2 linked regions of the Homo sapiens genome follow. The protein of the gene in region 1 interacts with the protein of each later gene in a pairwise test. Each region holds a gene or a part of one and is shown on either strand. Other genes may lie near its edges.

Region 1 (3,533 bases):
TCTGGCATGCCTGGGGACAGGAACAGAGATGCCTTTGAACATACCAAGCAGCCTAGTTAACAAGGAGGTCGAAGAAGGCCAGCAATGAATTTTCAGAGAAAAAAGGAAAATGAATTACAAATAATTTGGCAACGCATATCAAGATCCACTGTTGATACCACCTGGCATACAGGAAAAGGCAGCTGCTAGCTTTCCAGTAGGGGAAGCTGCAGATGCCACCCTAACCAAGTTGCTGCAGTTAATACTGCTGGGACACAGTATTTAACTGCAGAATTTCAACTATGGGAGCCACAGACGGCCTCTGCCTCCCGAGGTGATGCACTGACAGAGCTCAGCATCATGTCTGCAGGATTTCTATCAACAGCGCACAGACCTCAATCTCACAATGAAGAAATACCCAATATCCCCAAAGGAAGAGAAATTTAACTCTCATACAATACAAAGGAACTGTTCCAGATTAAAAATGGCTAAAGATATAGGACAACAGCATGAGAAACGCATAAATCTATATTTCCTTTTCCAGTGAAGCACATTACTCGAAGAAATGGTGAAATGTGAATAAAATCTGTGGATTAATTAGTTAACTATTTTTCAGTGTTGTTACTGATGTTGCTCAGTGTACTGTGATTACATGAGAGCCTTATATTTAGGAAATATGTCCTGAAACACTTGGGGTAAAAAGATGTCATGTTTGCAACTTACTCTTAAATAGTTCAGAGAAAAAGTGTATGTCTATGTGTAAAGCGAAGGAAAGACAGAAAGCAGCTAAAAAAGCAAATGTAGGCCAGGCGCGGTGGCTCACGCCTGTAATCCCAGCACTTTGGGAGGCAGAGGCAGGTGGATCACGAGGTCAGGAGATCGAGACCATCCTGGCTAATATGGTGAAAAACCCCGTCTCTAATAAAAAATACAAAAAATTAGCTGGGCGTGGTGGCAGGCGCCTGTAGTCCCAGCTACTTGGGAGGCTGAGGCAGGAGAATGGCATGAACCCAGGAACCAGAGCTTGCAGTGAGCTGAGATCGTGCCACTGCACTGCAGCCCGGGCGAGAGAGCAAGACTCCGTCTCCAAGAAAAAAAAAGCAAATGTAGTAAAATGTGAAAACAAAAGGAAATCTGGGTAAAAGGTATCTGGGGAATTCTTTGTCCTATTTTTACAACCTTTCAGTAAGTATGAAATTATATAAAAATAAAAAAATTTTAAAGTTACACGGTCCCCTTTAAACCAAAGCAAACGTTACAGGAAAAACTGATCCTCTTGATCCAAAGATGTATTATAGCTGGAAATAGGGAAGCCTGTCTCAGGAGTTCTTTCAGGGAGTTCTTTTACTGCTGGAGCTAGTGCTGCCAGCAGTAAAAATGCCTTGGCCTTATGAGCCAGGTTAGAAGAATGGCACATGCACAGCTTCTCCACACCATTAGCTTTCAGTTACAAACACATACTCAGAGAGAGAAAGCAGCTAATGTAAGGGCCCAAACTAAACCGGACAAAGGATTGCAGGTAAGAGCAAAACTCACCTCTTGCCCATATTTACCCCACCCCTTCTCAAATAAAAAGCATACCCTAAAAGATAAATAAGGAAACGAAGCAAACCCAGGGCTGCTGATAGGTGAAGCAGTGAAAGGAGTGAGAGTAAAAATTAAACCCTGTGTGAATTTTCAGCAGAAAAGCAGTGAGCCAAGCCCAGAAGACCATGAATGGAAAAAGAATATGAAGCCACACTGTAAGTTCAGCCTACAGAAAGCGTATCACAGATATTACATCAATGGAAGAGGAATAAAGGGTTCAGAGGGAAAACAGGTTACCTAGGAAAAAATGGGGGTGGCTCTTGCCTGTAATCCCAGCACTTTGGGAGGCTGAGGTACGTGCATCACCTGAGGTCAGGAGTTCGAGAGCAGCCTGGCCAACATGGTGAAACCCCATCTCTATTAAAAACACACACACACAAAATTAGCTGGGCGTGGTGGCGGGCACCTGTAATCCCAGCTACTTGGGAGGCTGAGGCAGGAGAACTGCCTGAACCTGGGAGGCGGAGGTTGTAGTGAGCTGAGACAGTGCCATTGCACTCCAGCCTGCAACAAGAGTGAAACTCTGTCTTTAAAAAAAAAAAAAAAAGGGAGGCATCTGTCCTATATGATCTCATCCAAACCAGCAGGCTAGGAAAAGGGAATGGACCGTGGGCATGTGCTTTTATCAAAACCACGCTGGCAGGCTACTGCTACCTGGGTATTGCAAGAATCTGTCCAGGGAGCAAGAATGCCAGCAGGAAAGCAGCCCCTTCAACAACAAAAGCCAGGCCAGAGCACAGTGCAGAAGAGGGAGGCAGCCAGCTTAGAGGCTCCTGTTCCCTTTAGCAATTCTCCTCTCTTCATGACCTAAAGGTGGAGTTGCCAGAGGAAGAAAAATAGGTCATCCATGTGAGGTTTGTTGCCCAGTTCCCTTCACTGTGAAAATTGAGACAACGGTCCTTCTTTTCTTTCTTCCTGAAATAAAGAGGTAATTTTAGGAATACATTCTTTTTTGTTTGTTTGTTTTGTTTTTATTTATTTATTTTTTTATCTATTGCTGCTTAATTTGTTAATTAAGGAATATACTCTTACACAAACAGGGAATGGCCTCTCTTCCCTCTAAGGAATCTTACATATGTATGCGCAAGGTACCATCGTTTTTAAACCTAATTAAGATATTACTCATTCTTGTTGGTGCCCAATTCCACACCAATCTGCTCTTTAATGCCAGACTGATGGCTCTAACAATCCTTATTAACTCCTTTTTGTGGCTTCAAGGAAAAACAAAAACCTCTTCTCTCATTCACCACCTCTAGGCCAGGAGAAATTATTTTTGGTTCAGGCTTTCACAGTGGGGGTCTGAAAGTGACCAGTCAAGAAAAGGATGACTCAGCAAAAGGAGAGCTCTGAAGGTCCCTGAGGCGGCAGGGTCCAGCATATTAGGTCACATGGTATGACCTGGAACAGATACAGTCTTTCCAAATGTGGCAGGACCGGGAGAGCTTCTCACCAGGAGGGAACCGCCGCAATGACCGCCGGACGTCCAGCAACACTTGTTGGTAGTCCTTGCTCATCTGCCGTAGGTTCTTCCCTATTGAAGGAAAAGGCACGTTATTGCAGGAATGCCTGAGAAGCCAGACCAGAAGCAAAACATTCTGGGATGACACAAAAGGCCTAGAGGGCACATGTCAGCTTCTCCTGAAGAGGATGATATGACTCAAGATACAACATTTGGCAGGGAATCCCTAGTTTGGTTCCAAACATTATGTTTCCTGCAAGTCACAATGACCCTAAGAGAAGGGAGCACAGACTGCCCAGGAGACAATACAGCAGGGTGGGAAGGAGAGCAAAGACGTAAGGAGGCCAGGCGCCTCGTGCAGAAGGCCACTGTGCATCACTGGGAACTGCTCTGAATTTCAAAGTCCACAGCTACAAAATGAGGATATTCCAAGGATCAAATAAAATCATGAATGTGGGAACAACAGACCACTGAAAAAAACCCTAACGCCTATAAAGTTGTGGGAGCA
Region 2 (2,518 bases), on another chromosome or scaffold:
ACAGCTGCTTTGAATTTGTTAGAGGAAATTACCCTAATAGAGGAAAGAGGCCAGGCAAATGGTCTTTAGTTTTAGACCACTGATTGTTGTCGAGAATTATTCCAAAAACTTAAATTCTATTTTAAATCCTTATTGTGAAAAGACAGCCATATTTTAATTTTTACTTATAGTTACCATCTTCATCCTTAGTAATCTATAGCTTGAGCAGCCCTAATCCGAAAATCTGAAATCCGAAATGCTCTAAGATCCGAGATTGTTTGAGCACCGACATGACGCCACAGGTGGGGAATTCCACACCTGACCTCATGTCTATGGGTTGCAGTCAAAAACAGTCAATTAAAAATATTGTATAAAATTACCCTCAGGCTATGCATATGAGGTGTATATGAAACATAAATGAATTTTGTGTTTAGACTTGGGTCCCATCCCAGAGATATTTGATTATGTATATGCAAGTATTTCAAAATTTGAAAAAATCTGTAATCTGAAACACTTCTGGTTCCAGGCATTTCAGAAAAGAGATACACAAGTTCTGTACTGAGTTATTATGGTTTACCAAAATTTGGTATACATAAAGCAAAATATAGCATGTTCCCCAAGCTCTTGCAGAAAAGTAGGAATAGATGAAGTTGAGTTGACTACTGGATCTTTTACCAGAACAAATGGCCTTCTATCAAAAAATGTTTGCAAACTCCTGCGTTAGACAGTTCTTTGGTGATCCATCAGTATTGTCTGAAGCTAAGCATTAGTATTTTTCAAAGTTCGGGAATAATGTACTTGGATCATAAGGCTCATTCCAACATGCCACAGGTGAAGCTCATTCATTATGCAATAGTGAAGCAGATAAGAAGTAATGGGAGACAATCTTTTGCCTTTCAAAATATTATAAGCTCTGGATTTTCATAACAGAGTTCTGGAACAGGTAAGTGATTTGTCAAGAAAGGCTTTTGTAAGCCATGTTGAAATGGCTGTGCAGTAAGTGAACAGCCTCTATCTTTGCAAGAAATTAACAGCCACACCAACCTCTTGCTCTTTAAAGATATTAGAGAGAAAGCCTATCATCATCTGATCTTGGAACTGTTTAATGGATTTTCTCTCTAGTAGTTAAATTGAAAGAATGATGCTCAGGTCTATTGTTTTCTCTTGGGAAAAGCCATACCACCCTGGTTGGTTCTTTCAACCCTCTCCTGACCCAAGGATAGAGAACACTACATTCCAAGACATCATGAGTGCCCCTCACTCTCATCTTTGGGAAATGAGGAGCAGCATCCATTCAAAGTGCAGTCAAAGGTAAACCTCACTGCCAAGTTTCCCTCAAGCTGAGAAATTGGATGTATCAGAAAGGGTGGAGTTTCAGGACTTGCTCTAAAAATAATGTGTCTGGATCTCGGCCACCATCTTAATGCTCTTCCTCTCTAGGCCCTCTCCCCATAAATGTCAAATGTGGCTGTCAGTAGGTTGAGCCTGAAAATAAAATCCCCTCACTTCCATCAAGAAATAGCTCCAAACTTAGAGTGTGTGCTCAAAATATTCATGATGAAATCATAATCCTATATTTATAGTCTTTTGGATTGTGCATGAAATTCTGTTTCCCATGGTGGTTTTCGTTGAAGTGGGCACAGAGTGACCAAGAAAGCATTAGCTGCAGGGAAATGCTGTTCCGTATCATTCTGAACTGGTTGGTTGTGAGACACCCTCCCTCTTCCCTGTGCCCTACCCGCTGCCTGATGAGTTGGGTCTACCACCCACCCCATTCCCAGCAGGTCCCCTCTTTGATTGGTCCTGTCTTGTCCTCCAAGAAGAGCTGGCCTTCCGAGAAGGAAGTGGGGTGGGTACCTAAGATTATTCCCCTTTCCTCTGCATCTTTCCTGTCCTAGACTTCCTCCCCGTTCTCACTGAGGGAGATGGTGTGGACCTTAATGGTTGGAACTTGATGGTTCTTGTCAAGGCTGGGGGTTGAGGGCCCTACACAGCAGCAGACCTGCAAAAAGCTTTTACTTCTCACCCGGGCTGTGGTACAGGAGGATTGGTCTTTGGACACTGTAATCCTGGCAGATCCACGGGGCATGGAAGAGAAAAATTTCCATTCACAAACGCCATCCGTCTTGGAGATCCTGTAGAAGGTCTCTCTTGATCCCACGGGGATGCGCACCATGTCCTTGTGTTGCCCTTCCACGGCCTGGCTGGGCGGGTGCAGGGTGTAGCCCAGGGCATGTTTGGAAGACTGCTTTCTGCAGAGACACTGGATTCTCAAGACATTCTGAAAGGCCTTTTTGAACTCTTGGCTGGAGCATGGGTATATGATGGGGTTGATGCAGCTGTTTAGATATCCGAGCCAAAATACTATTTTAAAAACTGTTTCAGAGGGCTTGAAATCAGGGAAGAAAGACCCTGGAAGAAAACACACAGATTTATACATATTATTTGAAAGCCAGCAAGCCAATTGGCTAGGAAAACAATCAAACAGACATCTTTCTGTATTTTTAAACGGTTAAAATGATCCCAAACACATATGAGT

Evidence for each region.
Region 2: the proteins of TBC1D20 (region 1) and ADRA1A interact in a two-hybrid assay, tested with the Homo sapiens proteins (one large-scale study listed by BioGRID and IntAct).

The regions. Positions count from the first base shown.
Region 1 is NC_000020.11:442,034-445,566, forward strand, and holds part of TBC1D20 (TBC1 domain family member 20), read right to left. Parts: intron 3,098-3,533; coding exon 3,017-3,097; intron 11-3,016; coding exon 1-10. UniProt on the Homo sapiens protein: GTPase-activating protein (GAP) specific for Rab1 and Rab2 small GTPase families for which it can accelerate the intrinsic GTP hydrolysis rate by more than five orders of magnitude. Also shows GAP activity for RAB18 GTPase.
Region 2 is NC_000008.11:26,768,276-26,770,793, forward strand, and holds the end of ADRA1A (alpha-1A adrenergic receptor), read right to left. Parts: intron 2,392-2,518; coding exon 1,874-2,391; 3' UTR 534-1,873; downstream 1-533. UniProt on the Homo sapiens protein: This alpha-adrenergic receptor mediates its action by association with G proteins that activate a phosphatidylinositol-calcium second messenger system. Its effect is mediated by G(q) and G(11) proteins.